Linked DNA regions of Homo sapiens. The protein of the gene in region 5 interacts with the protein of the main gene of each other region in a pairwise test. Each region holds a gene or a part of one and is shown on either strand. Other genes may lie near its edges.

What was found.
Region 1: the proteins of TFIP11 (region 5) and COQ8A interact in binary tests that used the Homo sapiens proteins (3 or more experiments, as listed by UniProt).
Region 2: the proteins of TFIP11 (region 5) and DDX25 interact in binary tests that used the Homo sapiens proteins (3 or more experiments, as listed by UniProt).
Region 3: the proteins of TFIP11 (region 5) and KANSL1 interact in binary tests that used the Homo sapiens proteins (3 or more experiments, as listed by UniProt).
Region 4: the proteins of TFIP11 (region 5) and LSM3 interact in binary tests that used the Homo sapiens proteins (3 or more experiments, as listed by UniProt).
Region 6: the proteins of TFIP11 (region 5) and DES interact in binary tests that used the Homo sapiens proteins (3 or more experiments, as listed by UniProt).
Region 7: the proteins of TFIP11 (region 5) and TSGA10IP interact in binary tests that used the Homo sapiens proteins (3 or more experiments, as listed by UniProt).

The regions. Positions count from the first base shown.
Region 1 is NC_000001.11:226,967,794-226,971,293, reverse strand, and holds part of COQ8A (atypical kinase COQ8A, mitochondrial), read right to left. Parts: intron 1-3,500. UniProt on the Homo sapiens protein: Atypical kinase involved in the biosynthesis of coenzyme Q, also named ubiquinone, an essential lipid-soluble electron transporter for aerobic cellular respiration.
Region 2 is NC_000011.10:125,911,008-125,914,507, forward strand, and holds part of DDX25 (ATP-dependent RNA helicase DDX25), read left to right. Parts: intron 1-303; coding exon 304-481; intron 482-3,500. UniProt on the Homo sapiens protein: ATP-dependent RNA helicase. Required for mRNA export and translation regulation during spermatid development.
Region 3 is NC_000017.11:46,186,930-46,190,429, forward strand, and holds part of KANSL1 (KAT8 regulatory NSL complex subunit 1), read right to left. Parts: intron 1-3,500. UniProt on the Homo sapiens protein: Non-catalytic component of the NSL histone acetyltransferase complex, a multiprotein complex that mediates histone H4 acetylation at 'Lys-5'- and 'Lys-8' (H4K5ac and H4K8ac) at transcription start sites and promotes transcription initiation.
Region 4 is NC_000003.12:14,185,317-14,188,816, reverse strand, and holds part of LSM3 (U6 snRNA-associated Sm-like protein LSm3), read right to left. Parts: intron 1-3,500. UniProt on the Homo sapiens protein: Plays a role in pre-mRNA splicing as component of the U4/U6-U5 tri-snRNP complex that is involved in spliceosome assembly, and as component of the precatalytic spliceosome (spliceosome B complex).
Region 5 is NC_000022.11:26,505,974-26,509,473, forward strand, and holds part of TFIP11 (tuftelin-interacting protein 11), read right to left. Parts: intron 956-3,500; coding exon 802-955; intron 487-801; coding exon 330-486; intron 1-329. UniProt on the Homo sapiens protein: Involved in pre-mRNA splicing, specifically in spliceosome disassembly during late-stage splicing events. Intron turnover seems to proceed through reactions in two lariat-intron associated complexes termed Intron Large (IL) and Intron Small (IS).
Region 6 is NC_000002.12:219,424,306-219,427,234, forward strand, and holds the end of DES (desmin), read left to right. Parts: intron 1-1,357; coding exon 1,358-1,440; intron 1,441-1,643; coding exon 1,644-1,685; 3' UTR 1,686-2,247; coding exon of another isoform or gene 2,248-2,274; 3' UTR 2,275-2,429; downstream 2,430-2,929. UniProt on the Homo sapiens protein: Muscle-specific type III intermediate filament essential for proper muscular structure and function.
Region 7 is NC_000011.10:65,951,980-65,955,479, reverse strand, and holds part of TSGA10IP (testis-specific protein 10-interacting protein), read right to left. Parts: intron 1,914-3,500; coding exon 1,743-1,913; intron 1-1,742.

The DNA.
Region 1 (3,500 bases), on a different chromosome or scaffold from region 5:
GGCATGAGCCACCGTGCCCAGCTATAATGACATTTTCAAAAAAATAAAAACTAGGTCGGGTGTGGTGGCTCATGCCTGTAATCCCAGCACTTTGGGAGGCAGAGGTGGGTGGATCACCTGAGGTCAGGAGTTCGAGATCAGCCTGGCCAACATGGCAAAACCCCATCTCTGCTAAAAATACAAAAATTAGCTGGGTGTGGTGGCATGCACCTGTAATCCCAGCTACTCAGGAGGCTGAGGCAGGAGAATCACCTGAACCCGGGAGGCAGAGGTTGCAGTGAGTCGAGATCACGCCATTGCACTCCAGCCTGGGTGACAAGAGCAAAACTTCATCTCAAAAAATAAATCAATAAAAAATAAATAAAAACTAAAAGAATTCATGATTAACAGACTACACTGTAAGAGAGAGGAGAGTTCCTCAGAGAAAAAGAAAATTATACCAAATAAAATTATAGAAATGCAGGAAGAAAGAAACACAAAAAAGGGCAAATATGTGGGTAAATCTAAATTCATATGGGCTGTACAAAGAAATAATTCTTGTGGTGTTTAATATATCTTAATATCTAAAAAGTGTTCTAAGGTATTAGCATCATTGGAGAAGTAGTAAAAATAATCACTTATTTTTATATTGTAATAAGTCAAGATGCGTGCTGTAATCTCAAGAGTGATCACCAAAAGAACCGTAAAGGAATGTAAAACATAAGAGCTAACAAAGAGAGAACATGCACGGTCACGCATCATGTAACATTTCAGTCAACGGACTGCATATACGACAGTGATAGATTGTATCATATTTTTACTATACCTTTTCTATGTTTAGGTACACAAATACCGTTGTATTACAGTTATCTACTGTATTCAGTACAGTAACATGTTGTAAAGGTTTGTAGCCTAGGAGCAACAGGCTATGCCATACAGCCTAGGCATGTAGCAGGCTATACCATCTAGGTTTGTGTAAGTACACTCTATGATGTTCACACAATGATGAAACTGCCTAACGACACATTTCTCGGACTGAATCCTTGTTAAGACACACATGAGGGCCAGGTGCGGTGGCTCATGCCTTTAATCCCAGCACTTTGGAAGGTTGAGGCAGGTGGATCACTTGAGGCCAGGAGTTCAAGAACAGCCTGGCCAACATGGCAAAACCCTGTCTCCGCTAAAACTACAAAAATTAGCCGGGCATGGCAGCACACACCTGTAATTCCAGCTATTCGAGTGGCTGAGGCATGGGAATTGCCTGAGGTTGCTGTGAGCCGAGATCACGCCGCTGCACTCCAGCCTGGGTGACCGAGCGAGACTGTCTCCAAAAAAAAAGAGAGACGCATGACTATAATTTTAAGTCCTTGATTAATTTAAAAGAAGGCAAAACAGGTGAGAAAAAGGGGGACATAACAGACAGGTCAAATAGTAAACAAACAAAAACTAAGGTAGTAGATATAAACTCCAATACATCCACAATTGCATTTAAATGTAAATGGACTAAATATTCTCATTGTAAGATTATCAGTCTACACTTAAAACACACAAAAAACCAACTATATATGCTGCTCATAGATATGCATTAAACATAAGGACATTTTAAAAGTTGAAAGTACAGGGGAAAAAAAAAAGGTAACATGCAAACATTACCCAAAACAAAGCTGGAATGTAGCTATAGTAATATCAGACAATGAGGACTTTCACAGAGATGAAAAGAGGCATAACATAAGAATGAAGGGTCAATCCCTAGGAGGATATAAGAAGAATTCTAAATCTGGCCGGGCGCGGTGGCTCACGCCTGTAATCCTAGCACTTTAGGAGGCCGAGGCGGGCGGATCATGAGGTCAGGAGATCGAGACTTATCACGCACGTGTAGTCTCAGCTACTCGGGAGGCTGAGGCAGGAGAATCACTTGAACCCAGGAGGCAGAAGTTGCAGTGAGCCAAGATTGTGCCACTGCACTCCAGCCTGGGCGACAGAGCAAGACTCTGTCTCAAACAAAAAAAAAGAATTCTGAATCTGTAGGCAACAAATAACATAGCTTCAAACCATATAAAGCACAAGTCAATAGACTAAAAGTAGGTAAATCCACAATCATAGCAGACTTTTTAATGCCTCTCTCGATAGCTTATTGAATAAGCAAACCAAAATCACTTAAAAATCTGATCAATATGAATAATAAACCAGACTAGATAGACGGATCACTGCACTCAACATGAATTATTTTCAGGTAAACATGGAACATTTACCAAAATATTCCCATTTGGAATCAACGGCAAGACCCTTATTTTACAAAAGAGAAAACCACGGTAGAGCCCAAGGTCACACTGGAAGCACAGTTGTAATCAAAGGACAGCTATTATGATGAACTAAAGTTCAGTTCTGACCCCATATCCAATATATGACCCTTTCTTTCACACCACTCTTTAAGAAAATCTAATATCCACAGATCATCCTGCCCATAGCATCACAGTCATAATGTCCCATAGCCAAATTGGACTTAGGACTCATGCCCCGCCCCCATTTCAGCATCAAAATGAGCCCCTGGAATTGGAAAGTCCTTGACTTCCACTTCTATATAGCTGAATACCTACTGCCAACCTCGCTGAAAACCCGTCTGGGTCCCTGCAGCAGCCCTACCTCCCTGAGACCTAGAGCAATCCCTTTCCTTCATAACCCCGTGTAAAAACTTCCTAAAGTCTGTCAGTCTGCACCTGAAAAACACCTTTCCTCCATGAAGGGAAGAAAGGCTAGAGGTATTTTCTAGGAGAACAAAGCGCAACAGTGCAACTACAAACTGTTTGGATGATGACCCACCAGTAAGCTATATATTTCACATTGTAGTGAAGAACATACTTAAATAGTATGTATGTCTCTGAAACTAAAATATCTTGCCATGTGTATAGTTCATTGTAAGGATGTACGATATTAATTCTAATCTTTTCTATTGAATTCCATTCTGTTTAACTTGTTTTTTGAGACAGAGTCTCACTCTGTCGCCCCCACTGGAGTGCAGTGGCGCAATCTCAGCTCACTGCAACCTCTCCCTCCTGGGCTCAAGCAATTCTTGTGCCTCAGCCTCCCGAGTAGCTGGGATTACAGTCACATGCCACCACACCTAGCTAATTTTTGTATTTTTTTAGTAGGAATTGGGGTTTCACCATGTTGGCCAGGCTGGTCTCAAACTCCTGACCTCAGGTGATTCTCCCACCTCGGCCTCCCAAAGTGCTGAGATTACAGTTAACTTGTTTTTTATATGCTGATCCTGATGCATTAAATTAATTTCACAGTTACTAAAGGGTCATAACCTACAGTTTGAAAGGTTCAACTGGGTGAGCCAGAAGGCCCAGAATTCCCCACTAGGGCCAGAACGGCACGTTCTTTCCTGACCTGGCTTCTCTTTGCTCCCATCCTGCCATCTCCAAGCCTGAAACATCATCTGTCAATTGCTTGGGCAACAACATGAGCATCTCTGAATCATAGCTGTGGGCAATCCTCCAGCACACAGACACCCACAG
Region 2 (3,500 bases), on a different chromosome or scaffold from region 5:
TCATACTGTTTGTTCCTTTGACTAGCTGCCCAATATTTCATGATTTATTTAATGTAACCTATTGATGGACATTTTGGTTGTTTTCTGTTTGGGGAAGTGCCATTTTTCACAGTTAAGAAAAAGTCAGAAATTTATCCTAAAAATTCTGCAGAATCAAAAACCACAATGACCCTCGGGGTTTCCACTTGGAAAATTATTACAAACTGTATTTTTGCTTATGAGCTTTATATTGCACTGCCCTGAACTGTGACCTGTTGGAGTTGTTTGCATCTGAAGGAGTGCTTAAAACCCTTTTCTCCCCAGTTCCCAGAGGCACCGACATCACTAAACAGATTATAATTGGCACTCCTGGGACTGTCCTAGATTGGTGTTTTAAACTAAAATTGATTGATTTGACTAAGATTCGTGTGTTTGTCCTGGATGAAGCAGATGTGATGATTGACACTCAAGGATTCTCAGATCATAGTATTCGTATTCAAAGGTAATCTTCAGAGTCTTCCTCTCTTCCTCAGCCTTCTGTCCAGATGGGGAATTTCATTTGTTTACTCCTCCACATTATCTTTATTGCTTAACTCCTCACCACCTTCACCTCTAAAATAAATTTGAGTTTTTACATTATTTTCACCAGTTCAAGGGTCCCTCAGACTGCTATAGTTTTCCAGCTTCTTCAGTTTGTAATCTTGCCTGAGTGCTTTACTTTGCAACACAGCTTACAGATGGACTCTATTAATATATAGTGCATCTGCACCAAATTTGCCAATATGTTCTATATTTTGGCCAAAATTCTAAAGAGGATCTGTTAAAGCCTAGTGAGAATACAATGGATAATTGAGATAGAGTAGAGGACACAGTAATGTGGGATCAGGAGACTGGTAATCTAGTCCTGACTTTCCCCCTAATTTGTAAAAAGCCGTGTCATTTTCCTAGGCCTCTCTATCAGGATCACCTGAGGGATTTAAAACTACAGATTACCGGACGCAGCCTCAGACTTACTGAATGAGAGTTTCTGTAAGTGGGATTTAGGAATCTGTATCACGTATTTTTTAATGAAGTATTACATACTCAATGTTAAATTCAATTAGTATTGAAAGACTTGTAATGAAAAACAGTAACCCCTTGCTCCAACCTGAAGAGAATACTTCTCTTTTCTGATATTAACCTTCATACTTGTAAATAATATTTTCATACTGCTGTTTCCTGATGTATAGTCATTGTCAACTGATTTCCCATTATAGGAAGTGGGAATTGAGTTCTTTGAAAACACCACCCATTCTACCTTTCCTATCCCCCCATTACCTCTCTGTAATTATGTCATGAATTAGGTTACAGTAACTGTCAGTATTGATATCATGTGACAGTGTAAGTATTGTTCACTGCTGAGCCAAACAGCGTATTATTATAATTACAGTTGCCCCTCCGTATCCACAAGGGATTGGTTCCAGGACCCCTTGCACGTGCCAAAATCTGTGGATGTTCAAGTCCCTGATGTAAAATGTTGTAGTATTTGCATGTAACTTATACACATCCTCTTGTGTACTTTAAATCATTTCTAGATTATTTATAATGACAAGAAAAAAGTCCATATACATTCGGTACAAGCACAATTTTTTCCAAATATTTTTGATCCACAGTTGTTTGAATCCACAGATGCAGAGCCCACAGATACAGATGGCACTAATATAAAGGGCTGTTTTTCTTGTAAAGCTTTTTCTTCTAGAAGTAATCATTGCTTTTGCTTTTTTTTTTTCATTTTGTTAGTATCACTGTGTAAGGATCTTTAATTTTCCCTTAGCTATTCTATCGTATGTGTCATATGTCTGTGATATCTCCAAATAGTAAAATAAAATTTAAAAATCCATCCATTTCTCAGCTGGGCACGGTGGCTCACGCCAGTAGTCCCAGCACTTTGGGAGGCCGAGACGGGTGGATCACAAGGCCAGGAGATCGAGACCATCCTGGCTAACACGGTGAAACCCCATCTCTACTAAAAATACAAAAAAATTAGCTGGGCATGGTGGCAGACGCCTGTAGTCCCAGCTACTTGGGAGGCTGAGGCAGGAGAATGGCGTGAACCCGGGAGGCGGAGCTTGCAGTGAGCCGAGATCACGCCACTGCACTACAGCCTGGGTGACAGAGCAAGACTCCATTTCAAAAAAAAAAAAAAAAAACCATCCATTTCTCTTTTTTCCTGCCAATATTCCAAGCTCCCTCTCTCCAGCTTCAGTCTGGTAGATCTGCTGTACAGCTGTCATCATGGGTCTTTCCTTTGCTCACTTAAGTTTTAAATCTCCTATATCTTGGGTCGTTTTTCTTGGAGTACTTCCTCAGTATGCTGGAGTATATTTTCTAATGCCTTCCTGAAAAACAATATAAAAGAGATTCATTTTTCAGCCCTTACATGTCTGAAGATGTCCTTATTGTACCTGTAAATTTGATCTTTTGACTAATAGTTTGCCCGGATAGGAATCCTGTGTCATTCTCTCTCTAAATTCAGAGAAATGTTGAAAACAGAAAAGTTTTTAAAAATAACTTCAATATATAATTAATATCCTCAGCTTCCACTGTTGTTACTGAAAAGTTTAATGTCACCCTGATCTCCAAGCTTTTGTTTATGACCTTTTTTTTTTCTCTCGCGAGAAGCCTTTGGAGTCTTCTTTCTTTATGGTATTCTGAAACTTTTCAGTGACATACTTTGGTTCAGGTCTTTTTTCATTCATCATACTAGACACATACTGCACCCTTTCATTCTCAAAACCTGGGCCTGCCACTTCTGGGAAAATTTCTTCAGTTATCTCTTTCCCCAAAGTGACCAACTTTTTAGAGAGCCCATCTGGGACACAATCATAACAATCCAAAAAAAAAAATGATATAAAATAGAAGAAATAATCATACACAGGGTTATTATTTTGTTGTGTGTTTCCTTCCATTTGTCATTAAAATAACACAGTCATTGAGCATTCCGTTTCTGTCTGTCTCAATCACACTGGTGGTGGTCTCTGATTTTTTTTTATAGAGCTTCCTCTTCTTGCATTACAGATGCAGTATCTTCAGTTGTCTCTCTGAGAACATTAATTCTAGTATTTAAAAATTTTTTCTGTTTTAACATTGTGAATTATCCAAGTTTCCTTTTTGTTTGCTACAGCCTCTTTCACAGCAGAACGTTCCTCTTTATATGTGGTGACACTTGGCTAGCCTTTCATGATCTAGGGTGAGAAGCTACAATTCCAACGGACAGCTCTGTGTGCATGGCTGGGGCTGCCACTTGGGAAGTCCTACTGTGTGACGATTGTCATCTGGAGGTCTTTAGGACTATGTAATGTCTCTGTTCTCTTTTCTGGGGGATAGACCCTTGGTTGCTGACATTCTGGGAGCAAGGCAGGGGAACAGGCTGAGAGGGCCGTCCCATTCGGTATGCATATTTTCACTTGATCTCCTCTTTTCAGCCATATGTTTTGCCTCCACTTTCTACTAAGGCTTGTATCCCCAAATCTGGAATTTCT
Region 3 (3,500 bases), on a different chromosome or scaffold from region 5:
TCACCATGTTAAGCCAGGCTGGTCTCAAACTCCTGACCTCAGGTGATCCGCCTCGGCCTCCCAAGGTGCTGGGATTACAGGCATGAGCCACCACACCCAGCCCAGGCTGGTATTTCTATGAAGTGTCTCTCCTATACTAGAAACCAGAAACTAGCTACAGTACTTAGCTTTGAGCCTCTTTCCCTTCACACCCTCTGGTGGAGGTGCTAACAAACAGTCACAAAGGCCAAATAACAAGCAGCAAGAGGAAAGTCTAGATATGAGTTCTTAGCAATTTTTGGTTTAACATCCTAACAACAAAATTGTTATTCCTCTTTTTTATTCCCTAATACTTACCTTCCAACTGAATTTAACCAAGTCTAACCTTAAGCTCTCCCCTTTTTAAAAAGGAATTAAAAGGTGAGGGACTCCATTAAGTTTGATGTCACTCAAGCAACTTTTTCCAAATAAGAGCAGAATCTGCTGTAATTAAAATTCAGAGTAAGATCTCATTTTGGATTCCTGGTTCAGGTTACAAGAACCAGAGTTTTTAAAATAACATTTAGATAAAACTGCACTCAATCTACCTCCACTTTGCATTTCCTGACCCTCAAAATCTTGGAAAGAAACTTTAATTCTAAAAAAATTACAGCCAGGAAAAAAAAGGGTAAGTTCACAGTCAGCAACAATAAAATACACAGCTAAATAATTTCCTGGTAGAGGGCTTTCAAATGTTAACACTGTGGAAGCAGCTTAAAATCTTGGAAAAGCAAGGCTTGCAGAAAGTAACATTTATTAAACAACTATTTTGCCGCATTGTGCTACTAAATGGGGAAGGTCTACTCTATTTAAAAGGTCTCTTCCACCTTAAAGGGACTCTTTGCATAAAGGTTTAAAATCTTCATATAAAATGTTTGATTTTTTTCTTTCAGACTGCCCAAACTCATTTGTTTTTGATTCATAAACATGAGCTGTGTTTTCTACTTTGGTCAAGTCAGTTTCCGCACTCTATTTTAGCTTTACCTTTATTCTACCAAAGACAAGAAAATGCTTAATAAAAAAAAATATATATTGCAGCTCTTTTTGGAGTCCAAGTATTTTGGTAAATCACACCTTTTGGCTTATTTTCTCCTATGTATTTTGTTCTACATCCTAAAAGGCACATGGCTTAAAAAAGAAACAAATAATAATAGTTACCCCCTGCCATACTAGTCATCTCCTATGACCCACAATCCTCCCCTCAATCTGCAAGTGACACCCAAGGATATCACTTACCTCCTATATCTTCTGATAGCCTTCAAACGCTGGTGAACTCTAGTACAGTGGATATTTGTCTTTTCTAATTCATACTGTCTTCTACAGCCATAGTGTGGTTCAACTGAGTTTTGATCTCACATTTCAGGGAATGGGAAGTACTGATGAGGGAAACTTATCTTGTCATATAAACTATTGTTCTGCACAACTTTTAGTATGCCCAGAGGTATATACGCAACTTATCAGCATAGAAACTGTAATTTAAACATACATCTTCAGAAGCAACATGAGAACTAAAAAAGTCTTAAAACAGACTTCCAAGAAACAGTTATGAAGTCCAATTTTAGGAAAAAGACATGATCCAAGTGTTCTTTGCACTGACACAGTAGGCAAGCCAGGTGTCTGGGGCCATTTTACTTAAGAACCTGCCCTGTACTCCTTTCTTAAGGTAAGTAAGTAAAGAGGCACTAAGGTAAAATACGCTTCCCAAGACATAGACTAATCAAATCACTCAAGGCAGGAACATTTAAAATGAAGAAAGAGTACAACGAAAGCTGCTTTAAAACTCTAAATAAGACAAGCAAGGGGCCAGGCCCGGTGGCTCACGCTTATAATCCTAGCACTTTGGGAGGCTGAGGTGGGTGGATCACCTGAGGTCCGGAGTTCAACACCAGCCTGGCCAACATGGCAAAACCCCATCTATACTAAAAATAGAAAAAAATTAGCCAGGCGTGGTGGTGGGCACCTGTAATGCCAGCTACGCAGGAGGCTGAGGTAGGAGAATCGCTAGAACCCTAGGGGTGGAGGTTGCAGTGAGCCAAGATCGCGCCACTGCACTCCAGCCTGGGCAACAGAGCAAAGATTGTCTCAAAAAAAAAAAAAAAAAAAAAAAAAAAAAAAAAAAGACAAGCAAGGTTATATGCTCCCGTTGCTCAACCTACTCAGGAGGCTAAGGCAGGAAGATCACTTGAGCCCCGGAGTTCAGGCACTCTAAACTGTAGCGCACAATGATTACATCTGTGCACGCCAACCTGGGAATCACAGCGAGACCCCGAGACCTCGTCTCTAAAATGAAAAAGAAACAAAATCTCTAAACCACTCAATAAGATTTACTCTGGGGCAATCAACAGACAACCACTTATTCAGTTTACCCTAGTCCCTCCCCTCTAAACTCAAGGAATGGAACGGAGAGGTCCTTTGTTGGGGGGTGGAGAGGGACAATAAAACTATATACATCTATCTAGCAAGAAAGTCGCTTATTTCTGTGTCTTAATGGACTCACCAAGAAGAAAAAAATAGCCCCTACCCATCTCCCCACAAGCTGAAAAAACATAAAAGGAATACGCATTACTCTTTAAACATGGCGTTTACTATGTTTAGAAAATCCAGTGTGGATTAGTTTGGTGTTTTATAGCACATTTTAAAAATTGCTTGTCTAGGCTAAGCGTAGTGGTTCATGCCTGTAATTCCGGCACTTCTGGGAGGCCGAGGCAGGTGGATCACTTGAGGTCAGGAGTTCGAGACCAGCCTGGCCAACATGGTGAAACCCCCGTCTCTACTAAAAATACAAAACTTAGCTGGGCATGGTGGCACACGCCTGTAGTCCCAATGGCACATGCCTGTAGTCCCTGCTACCCAGGCGGCTGAGGCACGAGAATCGCTTGAACCTGGGAGGCGGAGACTGCAATGAGCTGAGATAGCACCACTGCACTCCAGCATGGGCGACAGAACGAGACCCTGCCTCAAAAAAAAAAAAAAAAAAAATTGCTTGCCTGATATAACAAGGTAACTAAGCTTTACTCGCAAAGGGGCCTAATCAGAACCTCTCAATACTAAAATACCTTCTCAAACAACCACAACACCCCTATGTTTACAGAGTACACAAATCAGGTCATAACGAACAGAACAAACCTAAAACTTCTTATTCACTTTAAAATGCAATTAAAACCTGTGGTCAACTCAATCCTCTACAGAAGACGCAGAGACACTGGTTACAATGTAGCATTACTAGAGATGGAAGAGTAGCCTTAGTGACAGTGAAGAAAAAAGTTTAGTATAGTTACTTCACTTTCTTCTCACCTTGATATGAGTTCACAAGTGAACTAAGGCCTACTCATTTTCTAACTTCCAGAATTTTCCTCAACAGGAAACACTCACGTAACAAAGAGTGCTCTGCAGGTTTAACCAGAGAAATAACATGTGTAGGCAGGAAGAAAGAAAATCAGACAAAAATTTAACATCTCACGTTGGTAAAGCACCAAAGTCAA
Region 4 (3,500 bases), on a different chromosome or scaffold from region 5:
AAAAAAAGATAAAGATAAAATTATTTACAGCAGAATAGGTTTTACTAGCAAAATATTGGAAATGGCTATCTGTCCATCAACAGGAAAACAGTTAAATTATGGTACATCTACACAGTGAAGTACCATAAAGCTAAAAACGAAAGCACAAGGAAGCTATGTATGAAAGGGAAAGAGCACTGTGATAAAAAAACAGGGGAAGGGAGAATAACTAACACTCATTAGCATATGCATAAAGACACGAGAAGATTCTCAAGAAACCAGTAATAGTGCTTATGTCTGGGGGTGGGGTGTAAAGATGATGAACAGAGGCTGGAGTGGAAGACATTTTACTGCACTGTGTTCCTTTCTGCATTTTGTAATTTTAAGACTGTGTGAGTCTAGTATCTATTCAAAAAGTTAAATTAAAATGGAAGCAATTTAAAATGAGTAAGAAAAGAAATATGTGTTAAGTACTATACGGTGATATGGACCATATGGTCTCAGCATGGACCATAAAGAGTTAGTTATGTATGAGGGAGCAGGTCTAGAGCTGCTCTAATATGAGTGCCACTAGTCACAGGTGGCTCATTAAATTAAAATTAAATAAAATTAAATGTGCAGTTCCTTAATCACACCAGCATCCATTTGAAGTGCCAAATAGCCACATGTGGCTCATAGCTCCTGTAATGACAGCATAGATAGAAATTTTCACTGCTGCAGACAGTTCTATTATTACAGTGCTAATCTACAGAAAGGTCTAGAAGAGCCATCTGATGCTGTAGAAGGCCTTCGGGCAAGCAGAGGGAGCAGAGGGCTTAGTTACAAAAGGGCACAACGTCCCCAAGAGAAACTGTCTGGTGAGCCAAACTACGAGGTGTTTGGTGAAGGAAGGTAGTACACATGATGGACAGCCGAAAAAGTAGTCTGGGTCAAATAACACAGACTGTTCACAATCTGTAAAATGGAAACTCCAATTATGGAGGACCAAGAATCAGAAGAGTAAGACTGACTGCTTTCCACCTTCCCATTTATAAGTCAGCAGCCAAATTAATTATTTAGAAGTCAATTATGTAAGTTATAGGGGGAAAAAAACCCAACAACCTGATGGTTTATGGGTCCCCCATACTGTTTTGGTGGTAAAACGTTGATGTTCATTAGTTATTTCAATAGACGAGAGAGAGAGCGAAATGTAAAATGGGCCAAGGTAAGAAACCATTTAGTCTGGTTTCCCATCTTGGAGAGGAGTAACAAGAGCGCACAGGAGAGTGAAGTAGTTGTTCTCCATGGCACTGAACCAGATGCAGACACTCTCTATAATATCACTGTCTTTGCTTTCTATGTCTATAGTTAATACACATTTACACACTAAAGTATTCTCAGTCATCCAAAGATTCAATTTTAAATGTTTTACCCAATACATCATGGCAATGTGAAAAAGAACTCATTAACTAAATAGACTTTGCTTACTGTTCTCAGCTGCAACTCTAGGCGCAAGAGAGGCCACATGCACGCAGCACGCAGCGTTCAGGAGCTAACCAGCCCCAGTAGCCTTTCAAGGCAGCAATTAATCTTAATGGAGGTCAGTAACTACTGAGACTCTGTTACAGACACCCCACCCAGAGAAATGCACATGTGCACAGACACATAGCACCTTCAAACAGTGTCAGGAGGAACCGCACTTGGAGCAGACTACTAGGGATGACACAGGTGGACCCTGCTGTTAGTTCACTGCAAACATGGAGTAAGTGGCAGTGTTCCCTTCTCTGTAATAGACACCACAGTTGAAGAGTCATTTCTGTCACAAGCAGAATTCAAGACAAGAGCATTAAAATGCTTATGAAGAGTCTACTCTCATGGTAAAATTCTTATGTTAATGATGTTACATGAATAAAGCAGAATATTAAAGCCACATATTCCATATTTTATCACATTTAAGGTATCATTTGTAAGCTTAGTTGAGCTGAAAAAGGATAAATTTTGCCAATTAAACTATGACACAATTCTTTTTTTATCACATCACCTGTAAGATGCAATCAGATTTTTAAGATGCTAAAATTTAAGAAAAAGTGCATCTTAGTACTTATGATTGTGTCCATGTTAAGAAAACAATAACCACTAAACAATAGTTAATAAATGAAATTCCTAAAGGGGAAAAAATGCAGATTTTAAAAAATGCTATTCTTTCTTGGAGAAATAAGCCAGCAAAAATACATAAATAAATAAGTAAAAATTTTAAAAAAAGAAAAAAATGCTAAATGTTTACACTCAGAAGGAGAAAGAACACTAGCAAAGGAGTCAGGTGTGGTCAGAGAGAGGAGGAAAGCCAGGATAAAGCAGAACTACAAAATCCAGTGAAGGCTAACAGTTTAACAGTGACAACGTGCCTGTCACTATCTGAAGGCTTTTCATGTAGCCCTCAATGAATCCTCCACAGTTGTATGAAGTGGGTCCTATCATTACTCCCATTTTACAGACAAGGAAACATATCCACAGACAGGTTAGGTGAGCTGGCTCAATTAAAAAGGTGGTAAGCAAGGGAGTCAAAATTTGAATCCATGTAGTCTTGTACTCTGAGCCCACATTTTAACCACTATGCCCTGGCAGGGTCAGAAACTGTCTTTCCAAATCTTAAAGACCTTTCTTTCTGCTACGGCCTGGCATAGTGGCTCCCACCTGTAATTCCAGCACTTTGGGAGGCCAGGAGTTCGAGACCAGCCTGGCCAACATGGTGAAACCTGTCTTTACTAAAAACACAAAAATTAGCTGGGCGTGGTGGCACATGCCTGTAATCCCAGCTACTTTGGAGGCTGAGGCACGAGAATTGCTTGAACCTGGGAGGCGGAGGCTGCAGTGAGCTGAGACTGACATTGCACTCCAGCCTGGGTGACACAGTCAGACTGTCTTTAAAAAAAAAAAAAGACCTTTCTGACAAGATCACTGGTGATAACTAATAAATGTGATTTTTTTTAAACACTGAAGAAATAAAATGAATCTGCATAGCCCAGTGAACTACTATTTTCTAAAGAACCAGTGCCTGATGTAACCAAATCATGCATGAGTAAGAGATCCATTTGAGGTGCAAGGCAGATTAATGAATTTTCACCTAACAAGAGTACGAAAAGTTTACTGTTACCGTTTCAGATTCCAGATGGCAAATAATCTTTGACTGACTACCACTTGTTCAGTTTGGGTGTAGTATCAAAGGTAGAACATTCACAAAACAAACTCCTTCCTTTCCAACTACCTATCTGTGTGGTCAGATTTGCTTCAATTACAACAACAACTCATGATAGATTTAACGCAGAAAAAAGATATGAGAATCTTCTAGCTGTTATCGATTAAGCGGGGCATTAAAGAGATTTGCAAAAATGTAAAACAAAGACATTCCTCATTAAAATTTTGTTTTAGAAAATAGTTATTGTTCATAAAAATGTTACTTACAGTAACACGTGATAGGTTTTTTTTTGTTTTGTTTTGTTTTGTTTTGAGACAGAGTCTTACTCTGTCCCCCAGGCTGGAGT
Region 5 (3,500 bases):
AAAGTGCTGGGATTACAGGTATGAGCCACCACACCCAGCCTCATTTTTGTTTTTAGAAGCACTGGTCAGGACCAGAAAAAAAGCCTGTTTTCAACCTGTTTGCAGCCTGTTTTAGACCCTAACCCTTTCCTTGCTGTTGAAACAATTACTTATTTAACTTGAGCTTTGATAAAGCAAGGTAGCTTAGGAACGCAAATGTCTTGTGCTGGCAAACCAGGCTGGAGAGATAAAGTGCTTTTAAAAGGGAAAAGCAAACCTCCTCTCCCAACGCCCCTCTCCTTCCCTATGCCTGCCCTCCTCCATCATGCAAGACGACAAAGGTGCAATACCTTGTGCATTCTTCCCGAGGCCCCGTCCAGGGACGTAGCCCATCTTCTGAAGAAGCTTCTGTCCAATTCCTTTTGTGTGTCTTTCCCAGCTGCCGAAGTCCATGAAAGATTTGGTTCCTCCTGCAAAACCTTTCTGGCTGGGCTTAAAATTGCCACCCTGCAAAAAAGAAAAATCAAAGCTTAGTTAATGGAAAAACAAAATGAAGAAAAATCTAAGAAAGCTTGGCCAACAGGAAAATGGCCTAAGTTATACAGCACTATGAAAAGTGTCATATGAACCAAAAATGTGTGTGATAACGTGTCAGGAAGGAAGAGACTGCACTACACACTTCACAACTCACAGAAACCTGCCACCAAAAGGAGACACTCACGAAATTCATTCCAGATGAGTTTCTCCCTGGCTAGAAAATGCTTGGGCCACAATGACCTTTGAAGGATATTCCTAGGGTCACAATCCTGCAATAGAGACTACCGTTTTTAGCTTCCTTGGTCCAAAATCCTTAGGAAAGTCGTCCTGCTTAACAGGTTTCTCTTCGTCATCAGAATCTTCCAACTCTGCCTCCTCCGCTGCCCCTTTCTTGAGCCCTGCGCTGATGAAGTTGACTGGCGCAGAGTAGTCACGGGCCCTGTAGGCACAGAAACAAAGCCCCACCAGGTCGGTAAAGAACTCTTTTCTCTGCAGCGATCCTTTTGCAGAAACTACGTGCTTGAAGACTCCTTAGAGTGAATCTCATGGGAGGTTTTTTAAAAAAGTAACACATTTTTTAATGTGTCAAAAAATCCAAAGGACCCCAGATTTGGCTTCCTGTAGTCACATTTAACATTTTACCTGACATATCCCTCTACGGCTGAAGAGTTATCACATCAATGTAGGGTTGATTACAAATTCAAAATATGATGTGATAATACAATTTTCCTACATTTTAAAAAATTAATTTATCATAAAAAGCAATTGTTTTGAAAACTATTTCAAGTACAAAAATCCAACAGGAGCAGAAATTTTGATGGAAAATCATAAATAAAACCCATTGAAAGATTATATGAATGTAAAGCATGTAACAATTATATTAATCAAACTTAGAAAAAGCTCCTAGCCATTAAATTTATTTGAATGTGAAAATTTCCAGCCAGGGCAACATGGTGAGACTTCGTCTCTATAAAAAAAAAATAAATAAAAATTAGCCAGGCATGGTTGTGCAAGCCTGTGGTCCTAACTACATGGGAAGCTGAGATGGGAGGATTGCTTGAGCCCAGGAAGTTGAAGCTGCGGTGAACTATAATCATGTCACTGCACCCCAGCCTGGGCAAAAGAGTGAGACCTTATCTCCAAAAAAAAAAAAAAAAGAAAAGAAAATTACACTAAAGTCCCCTAAGAAATAAGAAATTAACTCTATAAAATGAAATATATTGATTTAAACTCTGACTGCTTCAAGTACTTACATTAAGCCATTAACCTCAGGTCTTTTTTGTATAAAATAAAATTGATATATTTGTACTGTGTGGTTTAAAAAAGAAAAAATTACAATAAAAAACCCTGGAGCCAGGTACAGCGGCTCATGCCCATAATCTCAGCACTTTGGGAGGCTTGAGGCCAGGAGTTCAAGACCAGCTGGGCCAACATAGCAAAATCCTATCTCTAATAAAAATACAAAAAACTAGCTGAGTGTGGTGGCACACGCCTGTAATCCCACGCCACTCAGGAGGCTGACGCATGAGAAACGCTTGAACCCAGGAGACAGAGGGTGCAGTGAGCTAAGGTCACGCCACTGCACACTCCAGCTTGGGTAATAGAGACTGTGTTTCAAAGAAAAAAAGAAAACCTGGGAATACAGCAAATAAAGGGATGCCTTGTAAAATGACCAACCTAGTAATTCAACACCCTCAGGGCAACAACAGAATTTAGGGAGTTTTTTCCTAAAATTGTAATATAACTTAGTGATTTAGATCCCAAACTCTAGAGTCAGATAGGTCCAGGTTCCAATTCTAGCTTAGCCTCTGCCTAGTTGTATGACCATTAGCCTCAGTCTCTTAATCTGTAAAATGGGGACAATAATGGTACCTTTCTCATAAGGAAAATTAATCCAGGTTTATGAAATAGCCAGGACAAGTAAGCAGCCAAGAGATGTTAGCTATTATTATTATCTTATGATTATGCAATTCTTGTTCCCTGATCTATTTGTCATCCACTTTCAGACTTCCTTGTGGATGAGAAGTTTGGACTAATCTCTATACTCTTTCTCCCCCAGCCTCCTTTGAAAAAGGCACATTCTCAGCTGGGTGTGGTGGCTCACGCCTGTAATCCCAGCACTTTCGGAGGCCGAGGCAGGCGGATGACAAGGTCAAGAGATCCTGGCCAACATGGTGAAACCCCGTCTCTACTAAAAATACAAAAATTAGCTGGGTGTGATGGCACATGCCTGTAGTCCCAGCTACTCGGGAGGCTGAGGCAGGAGAATCACTTGAATCCAGGAGGCAGAGGTTGCAGTGAGCCAAGATTGCACCACTGTACTCCAGCCTGGCGACAGAGCAAGACTTCATCTCAAAAAAAAAAAAAAGAAAAAGAAAAAGGCACACTCTCAATAGGATAGAGCCTAGAGGCCACAGGTGAGGCCATGGAGGAAAAAACCCCCAACCTGGCACACCCTGGTTGAGTGAGGTTCAGCCAGGGCACACATAACCTTGTGCTGGGGAGAAGACGTGCAGCCTGAATCCTCATTGCCCACCACTATCCTAGACCAGTCCTCCACTACCTGTGCAGGGACCACTGGCTTGGCCTCCTCACAGTCTTCCACTGTGGCTCCATGCCTATTGAGCACACCAGCAAAAGGGTCTTCTCAAAACATAACCCAGCCCCACATCACACCCTCTCTATCACACACACTATGCTACCCTTCCCCCTCTCTGCTCCAGCCCCCAAGCCTTTCATATCCTTGTGGATACCGTGATGCTTCCCATCAAGGGCCTTTGCATATTGGGACCTCTTCTACCACCCTAGTTACCTTCTACTGTCAGTCATATCAGCTTAAGGGTCACTTTTCTCCACAGAAATCTTCCTTGACCTCTCAGAATAGATGAAATGCCCTAAAATGTGTTCTCCCTCATGTCCTCATGTCCCTCATGTCCTGCATCACAGTCACAAGTTTGATCGTCTGAGTTGTTAATGCCTATTTC
Region 6 (2,929 bases), on a different chromosome or scaffold from region 5:
CAAAGCCAAACAATGAAAAGAACGAGCTCTTAGGGCACTCTGCCATTTTGACATTAGTAATACGCAGATCGGGTGGCTTTCCAACCCCAGAGAGCAGAGAAACACACGATAATGATGCATTAGGAAAGCAAGTCGGAGTCCTTGGCAGCTTCTCCTTTCCTAGATCAAACCTTTTCTATCTTCGATGTACATTTCCATCAGGAAAAAAAACACGCTGCGCTCCAGCGAGTCACAACATTCATCACAGGCTGGTTGCTAGCTAAGGAAATTCGTAAGCACCAAACTCATAATACCAAGGACCTCCATTTGACCTTTCCTACACAACTCAGAGCCTCTCTTTTCAGTTAGTTGTTTATACAGACACCAAGTATGAGTCTTGCATTTAAAACTTCATAGTACAAAAAACTCCACCCACATTGCACAGTGCTTTTCCAAATCAATAGCTTTGTGGCCATGATAAGGTTGGTACCACTTCACTCCGTGTCCTCAGTGAGGAAACTGAGGCACAGAATGGCAAGTGACTGAGCATCAGCACAATGAGTCAGTGCCTTATTCCTGCTCTGTCTCACTTTAAGACATCAAGTTGCTCATCTGAATTTTTTTTTTCTTTTGAAACGGAGTCTCGCTCTGTCGCCCAGGCTGGAGTGCAGTGGTGCAATCTCGGCTCACCGCAACCTCCGCCTCCCAGGTTCAAGCAATTCTCCTGCCTCAGCCTCCTGAGTAGCTGGGATTACAGGCATGTGCCACCACGCCCCCCTAATTTTTGTATTTTTAGTAGAGACGGGGTTTCACCATGTTGGTCAGGGTGGTCTGGAACTCCTGGCCTCATGATCCACCTGCCTCGGTCTCCCAAACTACTGGGATTACAGATGTGAGCCACCGCACCTGGCCCTGAAATCTTAAAGGGAGATAGGTACTGTAAGGTCCTCTAAAGAGTGTCTTGAGACTGGGCTTTGGGGTTCTATCTTGAAGAAGGGGAGTCCCAGGAGACAAATGTGTGCAGGGCTCTCCTGGGGCCTGGGGGTGGAGAGGAACTAGGAGGGATGGGGAATGTCAGTGCTGTGCAGCCTGGGCCTCAGGTGTCCCCTACCCTCCTGCACCATCCTGCACATGGAGCAAATCTGTTGGCTCCTGAGACCATCTAAACTATGGGACAGGCGCTGGGGACTGCAGAACCACCTGCTGGGTGCTGGGCTGAAGGAAAGGTGTTAAAGTCTTGAAGAAGTAACAAGCCTGTCTTGAGGGGGGTTGGGGTCTGCTAGGGCTCTGCCCAATGTGGCCCCAGATGGACTCCCAGCCCCTGGTATAGCCCAGCCTGGACTTGGTCAGGCTGAGTGTGCGATGGACCCTGTTACAGAAACCAGCCCTGAGCAAAGGGGTTCTGAGGTCCATACCAAGAAGACGGTGATGATCAAGACCATCGAGACACGGGATGGGGAGGTAAGTGGTCTGTCTGGGCTCCTTACCCTTGGTGGGGGCTATGGATGTGTCTGGGGGGACTGTCTTCCACCCAGCTGTGCTGGTCTAGGTCCCTGGCTAGTGGGGCAAGAGAGATCCTGCGGCCCTGGGGTGGGGATGGCTCAGGGCTGAGGCTCCATTCTCTGGCTAGCACATGGTTGGACTGGGCTTCTCTTCCTCCCCAGGTCGTCAGTGAGGCCACACAGCAGCAGCATGAAGTGCTCTAAAGACAGAGACCCTCTGCCACCAGAGACCGTCCTCACCCCTGTCCTCACTGCTCCCTGAAGCCAGCCTTCTTCCATCCCAGGACACCACACCCAGCCTCAGTCCTCCCCTCACAGCCTCTGACCCCTCCTCACTGGCCATCCCTCGTGGTCCCCAACAGCGACATAGCCCATCCCTGCCTGGTCACAGGGCATGCCCCGGCCACCTCTGCGGACCCCAGCTGTGAGCCTTGGCTGTTGGCAGTGAGTGAGCCTGGCTCTTGTGCTGGATGGAGCCCAGGCGGGAGCGGTGGCCCTGTCCCTCCCACCTCTGTGACCTCAGGCACTAGCCTTTGGCTCTGGAGACAGCCCCAGAGCAGGGTGTTGGGATACTGCAGGGCCAGGACTGAGCCCCGCAGACCTCCCCAGCCCCTAGCCCAGGAGAGAGAAAGCCAGGCAGGTAGCCAGGGGGACTAGCCCCTGTGGAGACTGGGGGGCTTGAAATTGTCCCCGTGGTCTCTTACTTTCCTTTCCCCAGCCCAGGGTGGACTTAGAAAGCAGGGGCTACAAGAGGGAATCCCCGAAGGTGCTGGAGGTGGGAGCAGGAGATTGAGAAGGAGAGAAAGTGGGTGAGATGCTGGAGAAGAGAGGAGAGGAGAGAGGCAGAGAGCGGTCTCAGGCTGGTGGGAGGGGCGCCCACCTCCCCACGCCCTCCCCTCCCCTGCTGCAGGGGCTCTGGAGAGAAACAATAAAGAGATTCACACACAAGCCAAGCTGGCCCCTGTTGTCTTGACTGCCAGGTCTCCTGTGGGGCCCCTGGGGCCCTGTGATACAACCTGTCACCCTGAGATGGACTATACTGACCTTCTACCCAGCCAGACTTTCCCCAGGGCCTCGCGCCCACTTCTGTTCCCAGAGCCACCTGGCCTTGATGTCTGTATGCAGTGTATGGGGCAGGGAGGGCTGGACAGGGCTTTTGTTGGGGAACCACAAATACCTCTCGTTAGGCCCCAGTTCCAGGACTGCACCCCTTGTGCTCTCTACTACACCTTCAGGTCAGCCAGGCTGGGGGACACCACCTGCTATTCCTTTTGAAGGATGTAGCTGCTCCCCACTGACTGGCTCTGAAGTAGGGCTCCCCCAGTCCCTTCTTCAAAGATGCCAACAGCCCCTTTTTTTTCTCTCTCTCTTTTTTTCTTTTTGAGATGGAGTCTTGCTGTGTCACCCAGGCTGGAGTGCAGCAGTGTGATCACGGCTTACTGCAGCCT
Region 7 (3,500 bases), on a different chromosome or scaffold from region 5:
CACTACGCCCAGCTAATTTTTGTATATATATTTTTTAGTATAGACGGGGTTTCATTACGTTGGCCAGGCTGGTCTCGAAATCCTGACCTCAGGTGATCCACTTACCTCGGCTTCCCAAAGTGTTGGGATTACAGGTGTGAGCCACGGCGTACAGCCGAGTACCTAACTCTTTTGCAAGATAAGCAGTCTTAGGGGATACCAGATGGCTACAAGTTCCCTCATACCTAGCACAGCCCAGGAAAAAAAAAACAAAAGCCCCTTATTCATAATGTAGCTTCCCCGATCTCCAGCCAATCAGCACCAAAAGCCCAAGAAGCTATTAGCTACAAATTCCTGCCTTGGAGGGAGCTAAGGACTTCTCGGGGTTCCGCATACACAGCTAGGCTCAAGGTTTAGCTTATAGCAACATTTTCCTCGTTTTGATGGTAAAAAAACACACCCCTAGGTAGAGATTGTATATGCTAATGTTACATGTGATGCGTGTTGGAGCATGCAGATGCTGAGCGCATGCGCCCACCACAGGTCCACCTTTGCATACCTGACCTCACCAGTATTTTGTGACTAGGTATAAACAACTTCCATAAAAGGAATTCCTCTTAAGGCACAAGCTGCCGTCTCTCCCTCTGAGCAGTCCTCAGGGTGGGCTTTTTTTTTTTTTTTTGAGATGGAGTTTTTGCTCTGTCGCCCAGGCTGGAGTGTAGTGGCTCAATTTCGGCTCACTGCAACCTCCATCTCCCGGGTTCAAGCAATTCTCCTGCCTCAGCCTCCCGAATAGCTAGGATTACAGGTATGTGCCACCGCACCTGGCTACTTTTTGTATTTTTAGTAGAGATGAGGTTTCACCATGTTGGTCAGGGTGGCCTTTGCTTTGCAATAAACTTTTTCTTTTGTGCGGCCAAGGGAAGAACCTGACCTGGCCCACCAGCAGCAATACTCCCTGCTTCACGGACCTGTTAGGAGTCCAAAAACGTTTGCCCACAAATCTGCTTATTAGGAAAATGGTCACGGCCAGGTGCAGTGTCTCACACCTGTAATCCCAGCACTTTGGGAGGCTGAGGCGGGTGGATCACGAGGTCAGGAGATCGAGACTATCCTGGCTAACACGGTGAAACCCCGTCTCTACTAAAAATACAAAAAAAAAAAAAAATTAGCCGGGCGTGGTGGCGGGCGCCTGTAGTCTCAGCTACTCGGGAGACTGAGGCAGGAGAATGGCGTGAAGCTGGGAGGCGGAGATTGCAGTGAGCCGAGATCGCGCCACTGCACTCCAGCCTGGGCGACAGAGCGAGACTCCGTCTCAAAAAAAAAAAAAAAGGAAAATGGTCACAATATAGGAAGAGAACAAAACGCGACTCTTCAGCTGACTGTGAACAATGGTTGTCTCCCAGAGTGGGGTCACACGGCTGTTCACCTTCTCCAGGCATTATTTCTGTAATCTTTGAAATTTTATAACAAGCATGTCTGGCATTGGAAATCAGAAAATGAAGATTTGAAAGTGTGATCATACATGTAGAATATTTTAACCTTGACCATTCAACAGCTGCAGAGATTGTCATTATTAACTGGGTGGCCTTCGACAGACCCCTTCTCCCCATGCCTCAGCGTCCTTATCTGGAAACGCGGTGAAGTGGCCTGGTTAGCCCCAGGGAAGGCGAGGGCTGGTGCTCCTCGGTCCTGTAGACTGAGACCTGACACGGCCTCCCTGCCCTCTCCCAACCAGGCCTCCCGAAGCCCAGGCTCCCTACCTCAGCTCCTCCAGCTTGCGCTGGGCCGCCCCAGGGCCCCGGCTCCCTCTGGGTGCGTAGGCTGCCAGGCAGTGGGCCACCTGCCGCTGTACATGCTGTGTCCGGGCCCGCCGCAGCTCGGCCTGCTGCCGCTCCTCCTGCCGCTGCCGCTCCCAGGCCTGCAGCAGGCTCCTTGGGTGAGAAAGGGAAGGGGAATGAGAGGTTCACGGGCAGCAGGAGCCTCACGGAGGGCCAGGGGCTGGATAAGGGAATATGGAAGCCTGTGGGGAGGGGCTGCAGTGTCCAGAGCCAGTGTCCTGGGAGTAGGGTTTGTCATGGAAGTCCATGACAGAGACTGCCCTGGAGGCTCAGCCCTCGGTCCCAGCTCAAGGCCTTTCCCTACTCTTTCTAGAAGTCTCCTGCTTCCAGGCCAGGCACGGTGGTTCATGCCTGTAATCCCAGCACTTTGGGAGGTGGAGGCAGGCGGATCACCTGAGGTCAGGAGTTTGAGACCAGCTTGGTCATCATGGTGAAACCCTGTTTCTACTAAAAATGCCAAAATTAGCCAGGCGTGGTGGCATATGCCTGTAATCCCAGCCACTCAGTAGGCTGAGGTGGGAGAATTGTTTGAACCAGGGAAGCAGAGGTTGTAGTGAGCCGAGACCACGCCATTGTACTCCAGCCTGGGCAACAAGAGCAAAACTCCATCTCAAAAAAAAAAAAAAAAAGAAAGAAAGAAAAAAGAAATGAAGGGTGCTTTGGAAGAATTAATATTGTTAAAATGTCCATATTATCCAAAGCAATTTACAGATTCAATGCAAGCCTATCAAAATTCCAATGACATTTTTCACAGAAATAGAAAAAACAATTTTAAATTAATATAGAACCACAAAATACTCCAAACAGCAAAAGCAATCTTGAGCCAAAAAAAAAGGCCAGGCATGGTGGCTCACACCTGTAACCCCAGCACTTTGGGGCTGATGCAGGTGGATCGCTTGAGCCCAGGAGTTTGAGACCAGCTTGAGCAACATGGTATATATACACAATGGTATATATTGTGTATATATTGTGTATAAAAGGTGGTCTATATATACAATGGCATTCTTCAGCCTTAAACCCCATCTGTACTGAACATACAAAAAATTAGCCAGGCATGGTGGACCAGACCTGTAGTCCTAGCTACTCGGGAGGTTAAGGTGGGAGAATCACCTGAGCCCAGGAAGTCAAGACTGCAGTGAGCCATGATTGAGCCACTGCATTCCAGCCTGGGTGACAGATTGAGACTCTGCCACACACACACAGACACATACACACACACACACCACACACACACACACACACAAAAGAAAGCTTAACGACACTTGTCTGGGCAATGGTTTTTTGGCTATGACCCAGAAAGCACAGGCAACAAAAGCTAAAATAGACAAATGAAGTTGCATCAAACTGAAAAGCTTCTGCACAGCAATGGCAACAATCAACAGAGATGACATACAGAATGGGAGAAAATATTTGCAAACCATACATCTGAAAAGGGGTTAATATCCAAAATATGTGAACTCAAGTAACTCAGTAACAAGAAAGCAAATAACTCAAAAAATGGGCAAAGGCCAGGCGCGACGGCTGTTGCCTGAAATCCCAGCACTTTGGGAGGCCAAGGCGGGCAGATCATTTGAGGTCTGGAGTTCGAGACTAGTCTGGCCAACATGGTGAAACCCTGTCTCTACTAAAAAAATACAAAAAAATTAGGCAGACCTCGTGATGTACGTCTGTAATCCCAGC